Homo sapiens: one gene and its partners. The protein of the gene in region 4 interacts with the protein of the main gene of each other region in a biochemical or structural test. Each region holds a gene or a part of one and is shown on either strand. Other genes may lie near its edges. The genes, in order: FBXO7, IKBKG, PLCG1, RET, NOTCH3, GRB2 and NEDD4.

Region 1 (3,500 bases), on a different chromosome or scaffold from region 4:
GAATTATAAACCTTATTGAATTATGATTTCATCATCTATAAAATAAGTACCACATAATTTACTTCGAAGTCATTAGCAGTAAATAAGAATGCATGTGAAATATCCAACTAAGTGCCTGCAAAGAGCCTCCAATAAATGGTTTAAAAAAAAAAACTTAGATCCAATTACAGACCATGTATTATTTATATATGTCTATATAGACATATATATCTAAATATATGTCTATATAGACATATATATCTAAATATATGTCTATATAGACATATATATATGTATCTACACAGAGAGAAAGAGCATCTATTATGTACCTGACCTCATGCTAGACCACAAGAATACAAAAGTAAGATATATTCCCTACCTTCAAGGTATTCCCAACCTTAGGTGGAAAGAAATCATATCAACAATTATAGTCCATGGAAAAGAGACTACAATAAAAATATGTACAAAATGGCATGGAGATACAAAGATAAAGTAAATAGCACTTAAGGAATATTAAGCTTAGTCTTAGAAGAGGAACATTTCGCCAGGAGCAGAAAAGAGGGCAGTCAGATGTCATACTCACCAAGAATATTAAGTATACTTACTATTCTTTACAGTCATTTAAATTGTGACAGTATTTCATCTCTTACCTTGTCGGGTAAAAGCCAGAAGAGGATACACCAGCTGGTCTTTAAAGAGGCGAGAGAGTTTCTGAAGATCTTTGTATATGTTGGCTACATTTTCCCCTAGAATATTTTTTAAAGTAAAATCAAAACCCAAAATCAAGTGAAAAAACTGTCCTCTATTTCTGCCAAACCCAATCAACATGGTGAATAAATATTCACAAATAATTCACAAAGATAAGCATGAACCAAATTCCCTCATGGAAGAAGTACAGTGCAAGACTTGATGAAACTGAATCTTAGATATAAAAGCTAAAAATTCCATGATATCAAATTAGTAGAGCTGTGCCCAACCTCTCTAGCTCATAGGCTGCAGTTGTAGAAAAGACTTGTGAGAGATTCATACATACGAAGATTTCCTGATAGCTATCAATCTGTTCTGGGCACTAAGGATACAGTGGAGAACTGCTCCTGTTAACGCTTAGAACCTGGTAAATTAATAGCATTTATCGCATGATGACTATGTATCAGCACCTGTGTCAAGCGTTTTTCAAGCTTTCACATCAGAAGTTCTTTCCTAATTACTATCTCCATTTTAAAAACAGGTCAAGGTACAGAAAGCCTGTCCAAGGCCCCATGGTTAGTGGCAGAACAGTGCACAAACCCAAGTCCGTGTGGCTCAAAAGCACTCATTTTTAGTCACCACACTGCTACTCAACATGTGGGCGACAGATCACCAGAACTGACAATACCTGGAACTGTTTAGAACTACTGAATCTCAGGCCCCCACAGACCTACCAAATCAGAACCTATATTTTAATAAGATCCCCAGGTGACTCATAGTAAAGTACGGACGCACTAGCAAACTGCAGCCGAGGTTCCCACTTGTTTTGCTATTTACCAAGTGTATAGCCTTGGACAAATAACCTGCCCCTCTGATCCTCACCTTTTTGCTCAACTGTTTAAAGGAGACACCACCACTACACCAGATAAGCGTTGTTATAATTGAAAGCTCCACGAGCAGTGCCTAGGGTATCAGTAGGCAATTTATGCTTGCTCCTTCCCCATTTCATATTTATGTATTTCACTATCTATAACAAATAAAACACTCAGTATAACAGGATCGATAAGAAGAAGGAAAGAGATATGCAGCTAATGTCTAAATCTTTGTTGTGTGACTTGCAATCTTGAGTTGAAATTTGCTGTCAAGATATCATTCTTTAAAATCAATTTGGCTCAAGGGCTTTTTTCAAATGTGAAAATTGATTTTCTTTAAATGAATGTTTTCCTTCAGCAACCTGGTATGTAACTATTTAATTAGGAACTTATAAATAAAAGGATAAATAACAGTGCCTAGTTATAGTTACTAGGTGCTATGAACCACAGTAAAAATTCATTAAAATGACTTGCCAAATGAGCAGCATATTCCTACTCAACATAAGACTTTATTAAAAATACTTCATTATAACAGTCCATAAACTTGTAATTTAACAGTATTTAATGTTCCTCCTCCCTTCCATTTCATTTTTCTTTATTTAAGAGAAACCAGATAAAGAATAACAATCTGAGCTACATTCCTGTAAAAGTTGTTTTAAAAGGCTGGGAGTCAGCCAAATCTATTCCTATCCTGTATTTCACCATTTATTGGCTCTGTGACCCTTAAGTAAGTGAGCCTCCTCTAGATCTGTTTCCTGATCTATAAAATGGGCATAAAACCTCTACTGCTGTAAAGTGTAGAGTGTTTCTACTCCCCATAACAAGGTCCTCCCTATACGGTGATAAATATGGAGTGTCGTAGCCAAGGAATTTCAAGTTTTTCTGATCCTCATGATAAAAGCCATCTATACCAATTCATCAGTCCAGTTTATGCATTTCCAACAGGGGCAAAAACTGGTCCTTGACGGGTTAAAAAGAAAAACTATTATATTGGTTTGTGATCCTTCAAAGGGTCACAGTACATAAATAAAACATACTATATTTGTGGTATGAAATTTCATGAAGGAGAGAGATTGAGGGGAAAATCTCCAACGGCTCCTTTGGGAAGTGAGAATAAAAAGATTGAGAAACTCTGGCCTAGTCTGACATTAAATGTTCAACTCGGTCGGGCGCAGTGGCTCATGCCTGTAATCCCAGCACTTTGGGAGGCCGAGGCGGGCAGATCACAAGGTCAGGAGTTCGAGACCAGCCTGGCCAATATGGTGATACCCTGTCTCTACTAAAAATAAAAAAAAATTGGCTGGGCGTGGTGGTGTGCGCCTGTAGTCCATCTACTCAGGAGGCTGAGGCAGAAGAATTGCTTGAACCCAGGAGGTGGAAGTTGAAGTGAGCCGAGATAGCGCCACGGCACTCCAGCCTGGCGAAAGAGCAAGACTCCGTCTCAAAAAAAAAATTCAATTCAGCTAATTCCCAATTTCTGACTCTACATCCAATCAGAGACCGTTATAAATATGTATTCTGCTATCTCCTTTTCCTGTCAGTTTTAGTTAGTATAAGTCAATCTCTCAGGGCTGATCTCCCCTAGGAATGAACAAGAATAAGCCTTTAGGCCTTCAAAGCAACAATGTCAATCTAGCCAGCCTTTCCTAAAGGACTGCTATAAATGCCATCTTCCCATTGTACCACAACATTCCCACTAGGCTCTTAAAACCCTCCTAAGTTTACTAAGAAGATTAAATGGAATAACATATGTACAGGCACAAGTACAGAATGAAACAGGCACTTAAAAAATGTCAGTTCCCCTCTCCACCTTATCTCTTCTGCTCCAACCACCTATAACTGCCTCTCACAGTTTGGTTTAACTGAAAAATGATAAAAGGGAAAACCTGTCTTCTTTGTATCTATTAATAATTTTATAGAGTTTAAGCAAAACCTTACCTAGAATGCAAACCTTTGGTAAAG
Region 2 (3,500 bases), on a different chromosome or scaffold from region 4:
ACACGGCTGGCCTCGCGGCAAGGACGCTGGCTGCCCCGTCATCTTTCACCTGAGCCTGCACTCGCCCCCTCCCGACTCCCTCCTTCTCCCTTCGCAAGGCCAGGCCGCCTCTGCTGGGGCGGGAACGGAGCTCAGCTCTCTCCCCCGCAAGCAGGGGTTTCTGAAGAAGATCTCTTTTGCCAGCTTGAACAAAGGCCCGCTTTTGTGTACCTTTGTGTATCTCCGGTGTTCTTGTCAAAAGAGGAGGACAGGCACAGAGGCCCGCGGGGACAAGGCCACAGGATGACGGAGATGGAGGCTGGAGAGGTGCAGCCGGCGGCCCCCGGCGCCGTGGAGAGGCCTGGAAGGCAGCTCCCTCGCGGCCCTGGCGGGGAGCCCACCCTGCCGACACCACCGCTAGCTCAGCCTCCAGGCCTCCAGAAGCGGGAGGCCACGCGTTTCTGTGGCTTCGGCCCCGCAGTCTGTGGTGCTTGGTCACGGCAGCTGTAGAAAACTCATCCACTTCCCACACAGGAAATCAACGCCTTAAGCCAGGCGCTCTAAGCCCTGAGTGGAGCGGCGTGCACAGCCCACCATCCACGCCTTTCCCCAGGGGAGTGGAGCCTGGCTGTGGCAAGTGCCAGGTACCCGCCAGCAAGTCTCCTCTCCAGCACTTCTCTCCACCTTGCCCCTCAAAGGGAGCACGGCCCCTTCCTGACTACCATCGCCAGGATCCTGCGATCAGCCAAGCCCACACACAAAGACCCTGAAACCAGGCGGTCTGTGCTAATGACACGATTTATGGGGGGAGCCTTGGGCCACACAGCTGGACCTCTGGTGGCTACAGCCGAGTGACCAGGGTTGGCCACGCAGGCGCTCGGTGCCCACGCGGCCCACCCCCCGTGAAAACCCCGGCCGCCACGGCTGGGGTGAGCTTCCCGGTTGTGACTCCGTGCTCGCTGTCCCACACTGTTGCCGAAAGAAACAGGTGCCGTCTGCACAACTCCCCTGGGCGAGGAGCCGCTGAAGCTCACGCCTGGTCTCTCCTGGAGCCCGCCCTGTGCGCCCTGAGCCTTCGCTCACCGTAACCTGTGTCCTTTCCTTGTAATAAACCGGAACTGGGAGTGTGACGGCTTTTCTGAGTTCCGAGCCCTCCCGGCACAGCACTGAGCCCCAGGGTGCTTTGGGGGACCCCGACCACGGGTTCCCTTGTGGAACACTGGCGTCACCGCGGGTTTTCAGAACCTGGCCCTGCCCCGACTACCTGCTGGCATCTCTTCAGGTGCTCCACCTCCCGCAGAGCCTGCTCCTTCTGCCTCTTCAGATCGAGCTTCTCCAGGCCGAGTCTCTCCACCAGTTTCCTGGCCTCCTGGAACTTGCACATGAGGAACTCCTTCTCCTCCCTCTGGCTGGCTTGGAAATGCAGAAGCTCCTCGCAGCGCTCCCGCAGAATCTGGTTGCTCTGCCGGATGGCATCTGGTGGCAGAGGGGACAGTGGAGGGGAGCTGGGCAGCCCGGCCTGCCGGGCCCTGCCTGGGCCCACATGGGCCTGAGGCTCAGGAAGTCAGAGGCCAGAAGTGGGGCCACCCATCCTGGTGCCCCCACCCGCCATAATACCACGCAGCTTCTCTCAGGGGTGGATGGCGTCTCAACACTCCCTTTTGTTTCTTTAAACACTTCCAAAATCCTTTACACTAATGCCCCTCACTTTCTGCAAGAAAATAACACCAAACACATCAGCTTCACTTAAAAGTACGTGTTGGCCAGGCACTGTGGCTCATGCCTGTAATCCCAGCACTTTGGGAGGCCAAGGTGGGTGGATCACCTGAGGTCAGGAGCTCCAGACCAGCTTGGCCAACATGGTGAAACCCCGTCTCTAATAAAAATACAAAAATTAGCCCGGTGTGGTGGCACACGCCTGTAATCCCAGCTACTTGGGAGGCTAAGGCAGGAGAAGCACTTGAACCTGGGAGGTGGAGGTTGCAGTGAGCCGAGATCACACCATTGCACTCCAGCCTGGGGGACAGAGCAAAACTCTGTCTCAAAAAAAAGAAAAAAAGTATGTGTTAAATGCCACTTTTTTGAATTTTTATTTTTGTAGAGACAAGGTCTTGCTATGTTGCCCAGGCTGGTCTCACATCGTTGGCCTCAAGCAATCCTCCCACCTCGGCCTCCGAAAGTGCTGGGATTATAGGCATGGGCCACTGTGCCTGGCCTTATGCCACTTTGTTTGTAAGTGACTCGAATTCATTTGTATTCTGGTCAGTCTGAGGTGTGCCTGCCCTCAGATGCTCGGTATTGGTCCTCCCTGGCCTACATCTCTGCTGTCTTCTAGATCGGGGGTCCTAACACGCCTGCAGACTCCTAGGGTCAGCCTCCCAGGCAAACTTCACTGCAGCATTGCTGGCTGCAGCCTGAGAGGCCCAAAAGGCTTGGACCAGGCAAGTTAGTGGCGTCTCTGAGCCTCAAAGTCCTCATCTGCATAGTGAACAGAGACAAGAACATTCATCTTACAAGACGAGGAGGGTTAAACGAGGAAGCAGAAAACAAACGGGAAAAACCGCTGGTCCTCCCCTCACCAGAGCATGTGTGCCAGTGCCAGGCAGTCAGCAGAGGCCACAGGAAGGAGAGCCCCACACCCAGGAGACACCCCAAGTAGTGAAGAAGCCATCTGAGGTGACAAAACTGATAAGTGATGTGCCAAGGTTCTAGCAACTCTATAGCAACTACAGAGCTGGATAAAATGGGGCAGGCAGTAGCTACCCCGTGATCAAAACCCTCAACCAACTAACTATTGCCTGCTGACGAGCGCAACATCCACCCCCCATCAGAATCCCGCTTGCTCTGCCCAAAGCTCAGCTCATCTGCAACTTGTCTTTTTTTTTGAGACAGACTCTCGCTCTGTCGCCCAGGCTGGAGTGCAGTGGCGCGATCTCAGCTCACTGCAACCTCCACCTCCTGGGTTCAAGCAATTCTCCCTGCCTCAGCCTCCCAAGTAGCTGGGATTATAGGTGCCCGCCACCACGTCTGTAGCTAATTTTTGTAGTAGAGATGGGGTTTCACCATGTTGGCCAAGCTGGTCTCAAACTCCTGACCTCAGGTGATCCCCCCGCCTGGGCCTCCCAAAGTGCTCGGATTACAGGCATGAGCCACTGCACCTGGCTGGCAACTTGTCTTTTAAAAAATGTTCTGAACTGAGGTAAAATTCACATGACATCAAATTCACTATTTTAACTAATTCAGCAGTTTTCGGTGTATCCATCAGGTTGTGCAACCATCCGCACTATCTAATTCCAGAACAGTTCCGGGACCCCATAAGCAGTCGCTCCCCCAGCACCCTCCTCATCTGCATCTGCCTCTGCAGATTGGCCACTTCTGGACATGTCTCACACTAGTGGAGTCACACACTAGAGACATGCAACTTCTTCGTGAATCTCTCCCTCAACATTCTAAGTACAGCCTCCTCCATGGACATAAGCATGTACATCTTGGGGGACAGACATCTTCTGGGCCCTTAGGGG
Region 3 (3,500 bases), on a different chromosome or scaffold from region 4:
AGGGCTGCCTTTCTAACCTTCCCATCTCCATCCCTGGATCTTTTTACCAGTTAGAAGCTGCAGCAAGGATGGCAGCTTCATTCAGCACCTAACTGCCTGTACCCCACCCACCCAGGAGTCAGGCAACTCCTCAATCCCTTTTTCATTCCTCAGGGAAAGCATACTGAGTCTTCTTTGACTTAAAAACAAAAAACCTCACCAAAATAGGCTCTGCTATTTCTTCTCTTCCCACCCTGGCCCGCCCCCCATTCCTGACAGTGCCTTACATCACAAACTAAGTCCTCTTAACACAGCAGGCAGCCCACCTGCCACTCTCCTCTCCAAGGTTTCCCTACAGGGGTGAGGAGCAGGAGGAGTAAATAACTTAGTTACAATACCATTGAGACGAAAAATAATACTGCTATTTTTAACATGATCCCCTGTATCTTTCAGGCTGGGTCATGTTCCCAGCCATGGGCAATGTGCCCTTGTGCTGTGTCCTCCTCCTCAGGCAGGGCAGAACCCTTCTCCATGCAGGCCCTACATTCCTCTGCCCTGGCTCCAGGGCCAAACTGCAGGGGCATCTAGCTTCTCACCCTGCCCAGCTGTGGTTTTAAAGCTACAGGACAATGTAAACTTTGTTTCCCTGGCCCAGCAAGGCTCCTCCTCCTCCTCCACTCTTAGGAATGTCAGTAGCTCCTTGGAGTCTCCTGTGCCACTGGCTGAGGCAGCCTCTCTCTCCAAGGGGCTTCGGCCATGGTCCTGGCCCCACAAGATGGAAGGATCCATCTCCAGAAGTCAGGGCCAGATGTGTGTGCTTAATGCGAAACACAGTACAGTTTTTGCCTTCATCCAGAGCTGGGGCATGGAGGCCCAAAACAGTAATAACATCTCATTAATGGCTTGGTTTCTGTCTAGCATTCACTGCTGGAATCCAGGCTTCAGGCTGCGAGACCCGGAAGGCCGCCACAGGGGGCTGCTTCCAAAGAACCCAGTTCGCGGCATTCTACAAGGCGCACAGCACCTGCTGCTCTCCAACGAGGCTGGGGTACAACTAGAGGCGGTTGTCTCCATTGACCCGAGTCCTTCTTGGGGCCCTGGACAGAAGGGAAGAGTGTCCTTACTGGCAGGCAGGGCCTTGCAGCCCAATGCCAGACAATATTACAACTTTTCTACCCAGGAGAAAGAAACACTGAAGAAGGAGGACCTAGCCACTGCCTTCCTGGCTCTAGCACCCCTCCATCTTCCTCACCTTCGTTCTCGACTGTCAAAATGGTCTGCGAGATGCTCCTGGGAGATGCGGAAGTCCTCAAACGGCTGCTGGTAGCGGGATTCAAAGGAGCCTTCCCGGGCTCGGCCATGAAACAGCTGGCCTGAGGCATCTGAGCCCCGCTCCCGCAGGGACGTACCACTGAAGGGACTGAGGTCACCATTCTCCTGCTTCAACGAAGCCAGGTGCACAAGAGGGTCAATGACTCCTCTGCACTTCTAGAGGCTGCTGCCTGGCTCTCCTCCCACCTACCCCAGGCCAGCCCACCCCTGCTGCAGATACCTTGGCAGGGAAAATGTCAATCTTGATCAGCAGGGAGGCCAACTCCAGGTCCTCACTGTAGTTGTTCTTCAAAGGCACTGCTCTGTATCCTAGGAGGAGGAAAAGCCTGGCCCTCAGCCCACGAGGGACAGAGCAAGGGGCCCAGCCCCACCCTGCCAGCAAGATTGCAGGGGCACTGCCTCCAGGAATGGTCCTCACCTGTCTTCAGGCCTTTTACTGGGAAAGTAGCCTGAGCCAGGAAATTCTGGTCACTAAACATGTCTTCCTCATACACCACGAAGCGCAGAAAGGCAAATTCAGGGTTACTGATCTGGAAGTGGAAGGGCTTGGCTGGCCATACAGGGTTGAGTCCATTGTCCACTGTGAAGGCAACGACAAAAGGCTTCAGGTCACCGTGGGAGAGGATGGGATGACTGGTGGGGAGAGGCTTGCAGTGCCCCAGCAGGATGAGGAGGATGACTGGGAAGACAGACTGACCCACAAACTCTGTCTTCTGCTTGGTGCTGTCATACTCAGCTCCAGCCACCTCAATCTCCACAAAAGGACACACAATGCCTCGGCCATTCTTTGGCAGATGTCGGGCCCCCAGCACCTGTAGGCAGACAAAGAAGGGCCTGGGATTGTCCTTCCTGCTCCCTCCAATTCCCCACTGCGGAGGCTCAGTCAGCATCTGTGGAGTGGAGGCAGCGCGCCCTCTGCTGGGCCCCCGGGACACTGCCCATGGAGTCCCTCACGACATCAGGGACCCTAAGCTGTCCAGAGCAGCTGCTGCCTGTAGTTTATCTGAAGTCTGAGCTTTAGCCAAAATTTCCATGTGAGTTTTGCAATCTACTTCATGTTAAATCCATTACTATTTTAACACAGAAATCTTTTAAATGACCTCCCCTTAGGGAAAAAAAAGATCTCATCAGAACAAAACAAGTCATCAGAACAAGTCACACCATGGCTCTGCACGTCCTAGATGCATACAGTGACTGCATGCTATCTTCACCCCTTCAAAGACTCAGCTCAGGCCCCACCCACCCTGACCACCTTGATGCCTGAAAATACCTACTTTTGGAGAACTCAACATAAACAGACTCCAACGGCAAGCAGCCCCTTTCCTACCCTGAAGCCCAGATGAGCAGCACCCACCTCAATAGAGATGGCACATGGCTCCAGCCCGCGGAGGCTGCTCTTGTCAAAGGGGTCGAAGGCCTCATCCCGCATGGTGCTTGGCTGCAGCACGTAGCCACAGTGCCTGCCCGTCATGAAGAGGGCCTGGTTCATCTGCATAGGCTTGTCTGGAAGAGGCAGATTATGGTGTATTCCAGTCCAGCTGCCCCACAGTGCCCCTCCTCACCCTCCTCACAGGGGACTTCCTCACCAGGGGTCTGGAAGTTGAGGGCCACAAGCTGACTGCCACAGATCCACATGGGCAAAGGATCGTAGTTGGAGGAATCCAGTCGCTGGCCCTTGGGGTAGATGCGGGAGAGCTGCAGTCGATTGTACTGAAGGAACTTCTTGCCTTTGGCCTTGTTCACGTATTTCTCAGCCTTGGTTTCCGGGAAGGATGACATGTCCCGGTAGCAAGCACGTTCTGTGCCAATCTCTGGGCCAAACAGGGAAAACACTTACAGAGCCCGCCCACCCAGGAAGTGTTGGGGGGATACCTAAATACTCTTTTTGCACCCACCAGGCCCTCCAGGCACATGCACACCCCGCCTGGGCCCTGGCCCTTACTCTCTTCATCAAAGGGAACAGGCCGGCAGTAGACGACAAGTTCAGAGAGCTCCAGGGCAATCTTCTTCCTCCGTTCCATTATCTTCCCTTCAGTGAGCTGGTGACACACACAAGGCCCTGTAGCCCCAGGCTACAGCCCTGCCCAGGAGAAGGAAGCCCCTGCCAACCTTGGGCATGCCCACACTGCAGGTGCTCTGGGCCCCTCTCCCACCTTCCCCTGTACCTTCCAGACACCACACCCAACAGT
Region 4 (3,500 bases):
GGGGTAGTGGCTGCTCAGTACCGAACACGTGAGGATGATGTGGTGGGCCCGGGGGACAAATGTGTCTTGTGAGCCCTCTTCCCTGATACCACCATCCACATAGTAAAGATGGCATGGAATCTCTCCATTGTGCTAAATCTAGGAATCATCTTAATCATGATGAAAACCAAATGTCTTCCTAAGGAAAGGTTGCATGATTTAAAAAAAATCATTCTCAAGATCTCGAATGCTGAGCCCAGGCCCATCCTCGGGGCCCCTCTTCCCCTCCAGCCCTGGAGGGGCATTGACACTACCCCCAGGCCCCCCCCGCAGTCTCTCATTCTGAATAAGGACAGGTCATCAGGGCCAGCATTTTTCCTACTGCCTTTTTTGTGTGTGTGCTTCATGTTTAAATTTTTTTGCCTTGTTTGGCGGCAACTAGAAAAATCCAACAGTTCAGGTCCAATTTCATACACCAGGTAGTAAGTGTTGGACCCACACATGTGAACACAGAATGTTGGTGGTCACTGATGGACACAGACCAACACTGGGTGCTGCTGGGCACTGAAGAGAAAGGAATGCTTAACCACTAAGACTCAGAGCTCTTACCCGGTGTGGCATGTCTGCTAGGAGGGAAAATCACCGGCTATCAGAAGTAAAACCACCTTGGAAGTTAAAACAAACTACCAAAAACGAGTCTGCCACCTGGGAACTGAACACGGCTCGGCCAATGTGACGTTCACAAAGAAAGGGCCGGTAGACTTTCCATTCTCAGCATGTTTCTTCCCCTTGTGAGTCCATTACCTTTCACAAAGAAATGTTAACTATCAAACGTGTCCATTAATTTTGCCGCTGAGGGTGAAAGCATCCAGTTAGCATATACACTATCATTTGGATATCTTGGAAACCCAGTGTTAGTGCCATCAGCTCTCGTGAGTGGTACAGGACTCTCTCCAGGCCAGTTCGGGTCTGACATGCCTAAAAATGAAAACAGATCATTTGTTCTGCACTGAAGAACCAAAACTTCAAGTGCAGACAGTAAGGCCTTGGCAAAACTCCCTTTGATGTTCAAACCAAACTCGTGGTTTCTGTGCCAATTATATTAATGGTTTTGTGTTCCAGGTTTCCAAAAACACTGTTATAGTTAGGGGAAATATCATGTGCTCTCTTGGTAAATGTAACTTAACAGACACTACCAATTTTGACTTTTATGAACTTGAGACTCTCTAATCTGATGTATATTTGTCGAACTGCTTAACTCTTTTTCTAAGGCAGTGTAGGGCAACAGCACACTGCTGCACTCAATGGCTTACTGCAGCGGAAACGTTCTATAAAACATTCTCTAACGTAAAGGAGGCACTCGTCTGTTGTCTGAGCCTACAACGGAGAAGAGGACCTTCCAAATCGAGGGTGCACACGGGCCAGCCTCATAGCATCGTCAGCACAAATGGAGTGTGGCACTAGACACAAAGCCAGTGAGGAGTCAGTGAGTCAGGAGGCATGCAAAAGGAACCGTCTCAGCTTGAAAAAAATGCTTGAAACTCCAAGATTTCAAACAATCAATGATGAAGTTAGGAAACAGAAAAAATTTCTAGTATTTAATCAAAGACAAAAGAAGGAGTTTTGGCAAGAACCATATTTACTGTCCATTGTAAGACCACAGCACCACAGACCATGTTCTTTCAAAAAGCAACTGCTCCAGCTTTAGCACTGACTTCATAAGTGACAACCGTCCTGAAGGTGGGTAAGGGAAAGGATGTGAAAACAGCAGTGGGGGTGCGTCCTCCCAGGGCCAGCCAGCTCCTGCAACCTCGCTACCCCTGATGGAGGACATGTGGCTGGGACTGGGGCTGAGGCTTGGCCAGTGGCTGCTCGCCAGTGCCGGGTGGCCTCTGAGAGGCACCTGCCTGCCCAGGAGGGGTCTGGGGGAACCTGGCTGTGCTCCCAGTGCAGGCTGAGTGGTGCTGGTGGCTCCTTTCTCAACTGAATACCTCCCCAGATTTGTATATTTATCCACTTAGTTAAAGTAGAAGTACTATGACTTGATTCCCACCCCAGAAGCGCCTTATTCAACCTGTTCTTGGTCTCCCCTGAGAGTTCCGCCCTGATCTGTTTTTTCCTCTACCATCCTAAGTTGCTGGGCAATGTGGTAATTACACTTATTTTCACATCCTTTTAGAAAAACATAGTTGCAATAATGCCTAAATGTAAACTGGATGCAAAGTCAGACATTTACAAATAAAAAGGTTCAGAGCAGACTTTGGTTTTGTTCAGACCAGAAACATTTTTAAAAAGCATCACAGAGAGGAAGGATAGTGCAAAGGGGACAGCGGTGCTAGAATCTAGTAAATGCATGGGAAATTCTACCATAGAGTTTGTTTTCAATCCATGTGGAAGGGAGGGCTCGAGGGAGGGGGGCATTATTACAGTCCACCAGCGGTGTCTCCTCCTCTGAGAGGCCGTCGTCATAAATCAGGGAGTCAGATGGAGTGGACGCCGCAAGGTCCAAGTAGTCCTGGAAGACAGAGATGGCCGGTCACTCCAAGCCATGTGCCACAACTAGATACAACTCAGTATACAACAAGCCATCCTCAGGGCAGAGGCTCTGGCTGTGTCTCCACCTCGCACCAATCTCCTGACCTCTCCAAGAGACCAGGGCCAGGCTGCATAGAGCTCCCAGGACTCCTGGCTGGCCTGGTCCTGCTCTGAGGTCCCCATCACTCCCCTGGGTGTTGTCTATTCTGTCTCTTCCCCTGGAAAGTCACCTCCCTGGGGAAAGAAATGTGCTCCCTCAGCGTCTTATCTCCAGGGCCTGGAGGGCAGCCTTGGGGGACGCCTCATCTAGCTGCCCCTGGCCCAACCCGGAGATGGGCAGCACGGAACCAGCCCGCTGACAAACCCTTGGGCTCTGGGGGAGCCCACTGCAGCCACATGCCAGGACGCAGCCCCAGCCTGCAGGATGTTTTCCAGCTTTCCCCAAGGACCCCTGCCATCTAGAACGTCACGTCAGGGCTGAGTTCTGAAATCTGACAGCGCTGTCAGGGTGCACAGGACCCTGCTACAGGCACGGGCTCCCCAGCACGAGGGGCCACTGGCGTCTGCTCCTTTCAATGCCCAGCTTGAATGTGCACAGAGGGGCCCAGCGTTTTCCCGGCTGTTTCTCAGCACTGTTCTAGGAAGGCCAGCACCAGTGATCGCTTCTGTTTTGAACAACGCTGCATTCTCAGGACTTGAAGTTTTCATCCAAGCGAGACAGTGATGTGAAGTTTTCCTATGGGGTCCTAGGTCCTGCATCCCGCTATCCAAGTCGGAAGAAGTGACAACTCAGTAAATGTGCCAATGTTAAGACAAGGCCTGTGTGTAAACCCCGTGAGGGCAGGGCTGTGCTGGTCTTGTTTATCTGCATTCCCAGCCTCTGAGACATAGTATGGGTCCTAGCAGCTGCCTGATGAATATTGGTTGAAAATGTGTAGACCTCACAAACTGTACTTCCAGGCACACAGGCTGACTCTGGCCACCCC
Region 5 (2,229 bases), on a different chromosome or scaffold from region 4:
CAGTGCCCCAGTGGTGGTGGCCATGGCCCCAGTGGCAGTGGCTGGGCTAGGCGTGGATTCGGACCAGTCTGAGAGGGAGGGAGGTGAGGGGCTGGCCCAGTGCTCAGGGGATTCGGGGGATGGGGTCAGGTAAGGGTGCTCACTGGGAACCCGCAGGAAGCGGGCCTTTGGGGGGCTGCTGTGTGCCCCAGCCGCCGGGTACTCCTCGCCATGTCCTGGGACTGCCAGGTAAGGCGGGGGCCGCTCCTGCGGGGAGACGGGGGTCCCTGGGTTGAGCAGCTGGGGTCCCGGCGCCAGTGGCAGCAGGAACGAGGGGCCTGGAGGGGCAGGTGGGGGCAGCCGGGCCCAATCGAGGGGCACAGCCACAGGGTTCAGCAGGCCCAGGCTGAGTACACATCCTCCAGGGGGCTGGCGCCCTAGACCCGCCCGGCCTGGGCCACCAAGCTGTGCCAGAGACACTGCAGTGGCAGTGGCAGCTGCATAGGGCCCCTCAAGGGGGAAGCCACCAGGGGAAGCAGGGGGCCCACCGAAAGGCCGCGGGGAGTCCAGCGAGTCCACGGGCGACAGCGTGACCGAGCTGTCAGCCAGGGGGCCCGGGCAGGCCAGCGTCAGCTTCTTGCCCCGCCCCCGGGGCCCCTGCGGCCCCAGCCCCGCCTTCCCGGGGGGCCTCCTGCTCTTCTTGGACCCCGACTGTGCCGCTTTGAGGCCAGGGAGGAAGGCCCCTGGAGGACAGAGCAGAGGCCCCAGGCCGTGGGGACCGGGGGGGCTGCGGGGCCCACTGGGTTGATCCAGCAAGCGCACGATGTCCTGGTGCAGTCTCTCCTGGGCTACGTCCCGCGGCAGCCTGTCCAGGTGGTCGGTGATCTCACGGTTGGCAAAGTGGTCCAACAGCAGCTTGGCAGCCTCATAGCTGCCCTCGCGGGCGGCCAGGAATAGGGGGGTCTCCTCCTGGGGGGCCAGAACCCACAGAGGTCAGCGAAACCCCAGCTAACAGTAGCAAAGTCTTCCAGCCTCTTGGGGGAGCCCGAGAGCTATGAGTTTGTACACTGGAGCTTGACAGACCTGGGTTAAATCCCGGCTGTGCTGGGGGAGCCTGGACAAGTTCTTTCCTCTAAACCACATTCATCCATCACCTACTAAGTGCCAGAGGTCAAGGCCAGGACTAGGGTGAGTTAAGCGAGGTACTCACCTTAGGCATAACTTTTTTTTTCTTGTCTTTTTTTTTTTTTTTTTTTGACAGAGTCTCACTGTGTCGCCCAGGCTGGAGTGCAGTGGCGCCATTTCAGTTCACTGCAACCTCAGCCTTCCGGGTTCAAGCGATTCTCCTGCCTCAGCCTCCCGAGCAGCTGGGACTACAGGTGTGCACCACTACGCCCAGCTAATTTTTGTATTTTTAATAGAGACAGGGTTTTACTACGTTGGCCAGGCTGGTCTCAAACTCCTGAACTCAAGTAATCCACCCATCTCGACCTCCCAAAGTGCTGGGATTATAGGCATGAACCACCACACCCAGCCATTAGGCACAAAATTTAAGGGGCCCCCAAAAACTTTAGTCACCAAAGTAAATTATATTTTAATCCAATGTTTGGGGTTTTATTTTGTTTTGTTTTTTGAGAGAGTCTCACTCTGTTGCCCAGGCTGGATTGCAATGGCACTGTGCCACTGCTGACACCCAGTGGACCAAGGGCTGGGGCTCACCTTGCTATCCTGCATGTCCTTATTGGCTCCATTTTTGAGCAGGGCCAAAGTGGCTTCCACGTTGTTCACAGCCGCAGCCCAGTGTAAGGCTGATTTCCCTGGAGGATGAAGGGGAGAGAGGTCAGGACCAGGCACCTGTCCTGGGGCCCCCATGTCAGGGAGGCAGAAATTGTCTAGAATGTGGCCTAGGGGTAGAGGAGGCAGGCCTGCCGTGAATATCCAAGTACTTGTGTCTGGATCCATGTGTGTGCAAATCTGCAAAATGACTCTGTGCAATGGGGAAGCACTTTGTGTCTGTGTGTGTGTGTTTGTGTGTGTGTGTGTGTGTGCGTGCATGTGCATGACTGTTTATACACAGGGGGTGCTGTGTGGACCTCCTTCAGTTGAACCTAGGGTTGTGACATCCAATACAGTAGTCAGTCACATGTGGTTTTTATTTATCCATTTATTTATTTTTGAGGTAGTGTCTTGTTCTGTCACCCAGGCTGGAGTCCATTGGCACAATCTCAGTTCACTGCAACCTCTACCTGC
Region 6 (3,500 bases), on a different chromosome or scaffold from region 4:
AATAATAAAAACCCCACAGGCTTATAAACAATATTTATTATTTTATTTCAGAGACAGAGTCTACGTTGCTCAGGCTGGAGTAGCTGGGACTACAGGTGCGTGCACCCATACCAGCTATGAAGAGTTTTTGAAAATGTCTTAACTCCTGAAATGGTGAGGTGTGTCTACTTTTACTGTATACACTTGTTCTTGGAAGACAGAGAGTCAGACTGACAAAGAGCTGCTTGTAACCTATTTGTGCATCAAAACAGAACAAAGTAATCATTAGAAAGGGACACTTTTGATTTGTGACCAATAACTTTGCAGAAAAAGATAACTCTATTTACCTGCCAGGAGTTCATAGAGCTACACTCTCTTCTTGTCACCTTTACCAAGACAGAGGCAAATCCCTCTAAAAAGTGTCCCCTCCCCCAACAAACACAACTCCAGGGCAACTCCTAGATTTGACATCAACTTAGAACTATGGCTGTCTACAGAACAAAAATTATTACTTGGTGTTTAGTATGTTTTTCTCCCCCAGAAAGAAGGAAAATATGGAATTAATGCTTTTAAAAATGTAATTTTTTTTTTTGAGAGAGTCTTGCTCTGTTGCTCTGTCACCCAGGCTGCAGTGGAGTGGCATGATCTCGGCTCACTGCAACCTCCACTTCCCGGGTTCAAGTGATTCAAGTGCCTCGGCCTCCCAAGTAGCTGGGATTACAGGCATGCGCCACTATACCCAGCTGATTTTTGTACTTTTAGCAGACACGGGATTTCACCATGTTGGCTAGGCTGGTCTCATATTCCTGGCCTCAAGCAATCCACCTACCTTGGCCTCTCAAAGTGCTGGGATTATAGGCGTGAGCCATCATGCTGGCCAAAAATGTAACATTTGAGTACATGAATGGTTACGATTTTGGTTATCTGGAAAATTCTAGTATCCAGAATATCACGTTATCAGATAGCCCAGGTATTGCTGCACATACCTCTAAACCTCTTCACTCTAGAATTTCAGAAAAAGCTTGGTTCTGCCGGAGGCAAAACACAGGATGAACAATGCAGCTGCAACCCTGAGCCAGAGACCAGGCCTTTCAACCCAACTGCTCCACCTGCACTGGGAGCTTGCACACACAAGCCCTGAAACTGGAGTGATGTAATTAGATGCTTAAAAATTAAGTTTTATTCAAATGTTTAAGTATACAAAACAGCTACTGAAGTGTCGGGTTAAAAAAAAAAAAGAAAGAAAAAGAAAACAAAACAGCAAAGAACACAAATGAATGTTGAAGAGCTCGAGGTGGCAGAGACCAGAAGCATCTGAGGATGAGGCTGCACCTACAAAGATTGTTTCATTTGCTGTGGCTTTAGGTGAAAGCTCACATCCTTCACAAATAATTTTTATTTTATTACTGTTACTATTTTTTTTTTTTTTTTGAGATGGAGTCTCGCTCTGTCGCCCAGGCTGGAGTGCAGTGGCACAATCTCGGCTCACTGCAAGGTCCGCCTCCTAGGTTCAGGCCATTCTCCTGCCTCAGCCTCCCGAGTAGCTGGGACTACAGGCGTCTGCAACCACGCCCAGCTAATTTTTTATATTTTTAGTAGAGACGGGTTTCACTGTGTTAGCCAGGACGGTCTTGATCTGACCTCGTGATCCGCCTGCCTCGGCCTCCAAAAGTGCTGGGATTATAGGCGTGAGCCACTGCGCCCGGCCTACTATTACTACTACTACTACTACTACTACTACTACTATTATTATTATTATTATTATTATTATTATTATTATTATTATTTATTGAGACAGAGTCTCACTCTGTTGCCCAGGCTGGAGTGCAGTGGCACAATCTCGGCTCACTGCAACCTCCGCCTCCCAGGTTCAAGTGATTCTCTGCCTCAGCCTCTCGAGTAGCTGGGATTACAGGCACCCGCCACCACGCCTGGCTAATTTTTGTATTTTTAGCAGAGATGGGGTTTCACCATATTGGTCAGGCTGGTCTTGAACCTCTGACCTCAGGTGATTTGCCTGCCTTGGCCTCCTGAGTAGCTAGGATTACAGGCGCCTGTCACCATGCTCAGCTAATTTTTGTATTTTTCATAGAGACGGGGTTTCACCATGTTGGCCAGGCTGGTCTCGAACTCCTGGCCTCAGGTGATCTGCCCACCTTGGCCTCCCAAAGTGCTGGGATTACAGGCATGAGCCACCGTGCCCGGCCACAAATAATTTTTAAAGGCCTAGTCAGACTCCTGAGCATGAGCAAGCTGCTCCCATCACTGTGTCTTCACTTGCTTATTCACTCCCTCTGCACAAATCCACGGGTGAGCTCACAAAAAGTTTCCTTCAGCTTTAAAATCTCCAAGGAATGTTTTTAGCTATTACCCCACAGCTGCATTTTCTATTCCAACCCCCATATTCCCTCGAGTTATGACTTTGTAGCCACACGACACTTTGGTTTAACGGAAGCAGATTGATCAAGAGATGAGATTATAAGAGGAGGAAGAGACAAGTTTCAGTGAAGACAGTTCTTTTTGTTTTTTGGTTTTTTTTTGCAAAGAGACTGAAAATAATGTTAAGAGCCCAAATCAGGAAGAAATTTAAGAGATGAGGAATGAGGTGAGCTTTACACAGAAGAATTAAAAATATACAAGTCCTTTCTGTGCTGATAGCACTCACGCAAATGGTCAACTTTCCTAAAATTCACTGGACTTTCTCTAAGAAGTGTGGCAAGCATCAACCCCACAAAGTGACACAGTACAAGAAGGGAAAGGATTCTCTGTATGCCCAGGGAAAGCGGCGTTATGACAGGAAGCAGAGTGGCTATGGTGGGCAGACTAAGTCGATTTTCCGGAAAAAGGCTGAAACCACAAAGAAGACTGTGCTAAGGCTTGAGTGCGTTGAGCCCAACTGCAGATCTAAGAGAATGCTGGCTATTAAAAGATGCAAGCATTTTGAACTGGGAGGAGATAAGAAGAGAAAGGGCCAAGTGATCCAGTTCTAAGTGTCATCTTTTGTTTTATTATGAAGACAATAAAATCCTGAGTTTATGTTTTTTTTTTTTTTTTGAGACAGAGTCTTGCTCTGTTGCCCAGGCTGGAGTGCAGTGGCACGATCTCGGCTCACTGCAAGCTCCGCCTCCTGGGTTCACGCCATTCTCCTGCCTCAGCCTCCTGAGTAGCTGGGACTACAGGCGCCCGCCACCACGCCCGGCTATTTTTTTGTATTTTTAGTAGAGAGGGGGTTTCACTATGTTGGCCAGGATGGTCTCGATCACTTGACCCCCTGATCCACCCACCTCGGCCTCCCAAGAGTTTATGTTTACTTCAAAATATATATATATATGTACAAGTCAATGGAAGGGGACATGAAGGAACTCTAGAGGTGCTGTTTATCTCACATTTCCTGACCTGGGTGTGTTCTGTTTGTGAAAGTTCACTGACCTATAATGATATATACATTTTCCTTTTTCTTTCTTTCTTTTTTTTTTTTTTTGAGACAGCTTCAGTTTTCACTCTTGTTACCCAGGCTGGAG
Region 7 (3,500 bases), on a different chromosome or scaffold from region 4:
GTATTTAGTGGGATGTTTAATGTTATCTATAACTTACTCTGAAATGCATGAAGAAACTAAGACAGACTGATGGATAGACAGATAGGTATGTGATAAAGTAAATCTAGAAAAAAAGCAATTGTGAGTAGTTGATATACAACTGTCCAATGTAAAATTCTTCCAACTTTATTATATGTTAGAAAATTTTCATAATAAAATGTTGAGGAAAAAGTTCATTTGTATTTTGAAACATGATAATATATTAATTTCCATGTCATTAAAAGCAAATTCTTCAAAATGTTCAAGCTGCTTGTTAAATTATACTTCGTCTATACTATAAGTGAAAAAGACATACCACAGATTCCATATCATGAAGGGTTATTGGTTTGTGAAGCATCATCTTGTAAAATGGGCGGATGAAAAAACCTTGCAAAAAACCAAATACATTTAGGATGATTACCAAGTGAAAGAAAACAGGTAATTATATTGTAAAAAGTTTATACTTAATACTAACCATCCAACAGTTTGCCATGATAAACTGCCATTCCAGCTACCCGACCAATAAACTTGAAGTAAGAGAGGTGATCTTCGTTACACAATCCAGAGTTTGGATTTATCTGTAGGGTATAATTGTCCCTGTAAAGACAACCCCATTTAAATACTTCATTTGAAAAACTTTAATATGACAAATAATTACAAATAATCTTCCTCCTTTAAGAGTTGTTTACCACTGTTAGAACCACATTCCTCCACTGGATTTAATGGTTTTAAAAATAGTAATTTCTGTCAAAAAGTGGAAATAACCCAAATGTCCTTTGGCAGATGAATGTATAAACAAAGTTTTGTTTGTTCGTTTGTTTTTGAGATGGAGTCTTGCTCTCGCCCAGGCTGGAGTGCAATGACACGGTCACAGCTCACTGCAACCTCCGCCTCCCAGGTTCAAGTGATTCTCCTGTCTCAGCCTCCCAAGTAGCTGGAATTACAGGCGCCCGCCACCATGCCTGGTTAATTTTTGTATTTTTAGTAGAGACAGGGTTTCACTATGTTGGTCAGGCTGGTCTTGAACTCCTGGCATTGTGATCCACCAGCCTTGGCCTCCCAAAGTGGTGGGATTACAGGCATGAGCCACCACGCCCAGCCTAAACAAAGCATTATATGCAAAAATAATGGAATATTATTCTGCCTTAAAAAGGAAGGACATTCTGATACATACTACAACATGGATGAACCCTGAAGACATCATGTTAAGTGAAATGAGCTGGTCACAAAAAGACAAATATTGAATGATTCCACTTATGTGAGGTACCCGAGGAGTCAAATTCATAGGGACAGAAAGCAGAATGGTGGCTGCCAGGGAATGGGGAGCGAGTGCTTACTGGGTATAGGGTTTCATTTTGGGAAGATGAAAAAGTTCTAGAGTTGGATAGTGGGATGGCAGCACAACAATGTGAATGTATGTAATGACTCTAAATTGTATATTTAAAATGGCTAAAATGGTAACTTTTTTTTTTAGAGGAGTCTTGCTCTGTTGCCCAGGCTGGAGTGCAGTGGCGTGATCTCGGCTCCGCCTTCCGGGTTCACGCCATTCTCCTGCCTCAGCCTCCTGAGTAGCTGGGACTACAGGCGCCCGCCACCACGCCTGGGTAAGTTTTTGTATTTTTAGTAGAGACGGGGTTTCACCGTGTTAGCTAGGATGGTCTCGATATCCTGACCTTGTGATCCGCCCGCCTCGGCCTCCCAAAGTGCTGGGATTACAGGCATGAGCCACTGCACCCGGCCGACTCTTACTTTTAAAACAGTGATTTTTCTTTTTCTGCCGATAATCATTGTAAAGGTACTTACGTAGCAGAATATTCAAACAACCCATAATAAGGGTTAAACATTTCCTTTGAGATCAGGAAGAACCATTCTCTGGCAACTCCTCCATAATCCAATCCCTTTTCACCATCAAACTCAATCCACAGTCGAGCCTTCAGGAAGTCTGCTCTCTTGACACCCATAATTCTCCGGTAAGAGTCTTCAAGAACAGTTGCTCGGCGAAGTTTCATTTCAAATTTGTTTGGAATGTCATTCTGAAAATCCAGAGGAGAGACGTACTGTTTAAATCAGTTCAACATAATAACAAACCCATCTCTCATAAAGTTATAACATTCCCTCTACACCCTGTGTCCAAGTCTCTTTTTCCTTACGTAATATACTCAGGGAAAACACAACTAGGTATATTGTCTTGGTTTCCTCTATGGTATGAGACAGTTTCTGCATTTTCTTTAATCACTTAGTAATATAGACTTCTTTACATCTGAAGAAGCTTTTGTTTTTGGAGACAGCTCTGTAGTCCAGGCTGGAGTGCAGTGGCGTGAACATGGCTTACTGCAGCCTCGACCTCATGGGCTCAAGTGATCCTCTTGCTTCCGATTCCTAAGTAACTGGACCACAGGCGCATGCCATCATGCCTGACTAATTTTTTAAGTTTTTGAGGTCTTGCCATCTTGCCCAGGCTGGTCTCAAACTCCTAAGCTCTAGCAATCCTCCCGCCTTGGCCTCCCAAAGTGCTGAGATTACAGGCATAAGCCATGGCACCCGGCCTAAAGAAGCAATTGATGGTGATGGTAATGCCCCCATGAAGGCATTTCGTTAACAGTCCTTTTCATATTAAGTTCCAATGAACACCGTTCTGTGACCTGTAGGATAGCCACTGCCTGCTAGCTGTTGTGCCTGTCTGTTCAGGCTTTTCCCTACCTCTACTTTCCTCCCTGGAGTCTATCTTGCTTCACTCATTAACAGATGGTGACATTTACAGACTGTGCCAGTGATATATTCTGGCTGTGTCCCTACCCAAATCTAATCTTGAATTGTAACTCCCACAATCTCCATGTGTCATGGGAAGAACCTGGTGGGAGGTGATTGAATTATGGGGGCGGATCTTTCCTGCACTGTTCTCATGATAGTGAATGGGTCTCACGACATCTAATGGTTTCTATGCACAAGCTCTCTCTTTGCCTGCTGCCATCCATGTAAGATGTGACTTGCTCCTCCTTGCCTTCTGCCATGATTGTGAGGCCTCCCTAGCCATGTAGAACTGTAGGTCCAATAAACCTCTTCCTTTTGTAAATTGCCTGGTCTCAGGTATGTCTTTATCAGCAGCATGAAAACGGACTAAAACAGCCAGGCATGGGTACCCTGGAATGGCAGGTTAACGTGTTTAACCTCATAACAACACTATGCGAAAGCTACTATTATTGTCTTCATTTTACACATAAAACTGAAGAAGACGACTTAAGAAAGTCTTAGCTCCTGAGTCTGTGCTCTTAATTAATGGAGCTACATTGCCTCACTAATCTTTTGTACGTTCTTTGCTTATGTGACAAATGTACACAACTATGCTTTAGGCAGAACTTATTGTAAATTTTACAAAAGATATATCTAAATATTTTATTCCTCAGTACTTCATGGGCAAATTTCCAGGGGAAACCAGTAAGAGAAAACATGCCATCAATATTCTGTCACCTCCAAAAAAGAAG

The links.
Region 1: of the proteins of RET (region 4) and FBXO7, one has a biochemical effect on the other in vitro, tested with the Homo sapiens proteins (one large-scale study listed by BioGRID).
Region 2: the proteins of RET (region 4) and IKBKG form a complex in vitro, tested with the Homo sapiens proteins (one study listed by BioGRID and IntAct).
Region 3: the proteins of RET (region 4) and PLCG1 form a complex in vitro, tested with the Homo sapiens proteins (one study listed by BioGRID).
Region 5: the proteins of RET (region 4) and NOTCH3 form a complex in vitro, tested with the Homo sapiens proteins (one study listed by BioGRID).
Region 6: the proteins of RET (region 4) and GRB2 form a complex in vitro, tested with the Homo sapiens proteins (3 studies listed by BioGRID).
Region 7: the proteins of RET (region 4) and NEDD4 form a complex in vitro, tested with the Homo sapiens proteins (one study listed by BioGRID).

What each region holds. Positions count from the first base shown.
Region 1 is NC_000022.11:32,488,311-32,491,810, reverse strand, and holds part of FBXO7 (F-box only protein 7), read right to left. Parts: intron 726-3,500; coding exon 630-725; intron 1-629. UniProt on the Homo sapiens protein: Substrate recognition component of a SCF (SKP1-CUL1-F-box protein) E3 ubiquitin-protein ligase complex which mediates the ubiquitination and subsequent proteasomal degradation of target proteins and plays a role in several biological processes such as cell cycle, cell proliferation, or maintenance of chromosome stability.
Region 2 is NC_000023.11:154,554,120-154,557,619, reverse strand, and holds part of IKBKG (NF-kappa-B essential modulator), read right to left. Parts: intron 1,456-3,500; coding exon 1,244-1,455; intron 1-1,243. UniProt on the Homo sapiens protein: Regulatory subunit of the IKK core complex which phosphorylates inhibitors of NF-kappa-B thus leading to the dissociation of the inhibitor/NF-kappa-B complex and ultimately the degradation of the inhibitor.
Region 3 is NC_000020.11:41,172,043-41,175,542, reverse strand, and holds part of PLCG1 (1-phosphatidylinositol 4,5-bisphosphate phosphodiesterase gamma-1), read right to left. Parts: intron 3,351-3,500; coding exon 3,254-3,350; intron 3,123-3,253; coding exon 2,898-3,122; intron 2,815-2,897; coding exon 2,666-2,814; intron 2,124-2,665; coding exon 2,009-2,123; coding exon of another isoform or gene 1,892-2,008; coding exon 1,730-1,891; intron 1,621-1,729; coding exon 1,532-1,620; intron 1,420-1,531; coding exon 1,232-1,419; intron 1,077-1,231; coding exon 1,034-1,076; 3' UTR 1-1,033. UniProt on the Homo sapiens protein: Mediates the production of the second messenger molecules diacylglycerol (DAG) and inositol 1,4,5-trisphosphate (IP3). Plays an important role in the regulation of intracellular signaling cascades.
Region 4 is NC_000010.11:43,125,569-43,129,068, reverse strand, and holds part of RET (proto-oncogene tyrosine-protein kinase receptor Ret isoform a precursor), read right to left. Parts: intron 2,495-3,500; coding exon 2,347-2,494; coding exon of another isoform or gene 2,315-2,346; exon of another isoform or gene 958-2,314; coding exon 800-957; 3' UTR 1-799. UniProt on the Homo sapiens protein: Receptor tyrosine-protein kinase involved in numerous cellular mechanisms including cell proliferation, neuronal navigation, cell migration, and cell differentiation in response to glia cell line-derived growth family factors (GDNF, NRTN, ARTN, PSPN and GDF15).
Region 5 is NC_000019.10:15,160,767-15,162,995, forward strand, and holds part of NOTCH3 (neurogenic locus notch homolog protein 3 precursor), read right to left. Parts: intron 1,797-2,229; coding exon 1,699-1,796; intron 949-1,698; coding exon 1-948. UniProt on the Homo sapiens protein: Functions as a receptor for membrane-bound ligands Jagged1, Jagged2 and Delta1 to regulate cell-fate determination.
Region 6 is NC_000017.11:75,336,179-75,339,678, forward strand, and holds part of GRB2 (growth factor receptor-bound protein 2), read right to left. Parts: intron 3,035-3,500; exon of another isoform or gene 2,622-3,034; intron 1-2,621. UniProt on the Homo sapiens protein: Non-enzymatic adapter protein that plays a pivotal role in precisely regulated signaling cascades from cell surface receptors to cellular responses, including signaling transduction and gene expression.
Region 7 is NC_000015.10:55,840,113-55,843,612, forward strand, and holds part of NEDD4 (E3 ubiquitin-protein ligase NEDD4), read right to left. Parts: intron 2,052-3,500; coding exon 1,822-2,051; intron 616-1,821; coding exon 494-615; intron 406-493; coding exon 335-405; intron 1-334. UniProt on the Homo sapiens protein: E3 ubiquitin-protein ligase which accepts ubiquitin from an E2 ubiquitin-conjugating enzyme in the form of a thioester and then directly transfers the ubiquitin to targeted substrates. Specifically ubiquitinates 'Lys-63' in target proteins.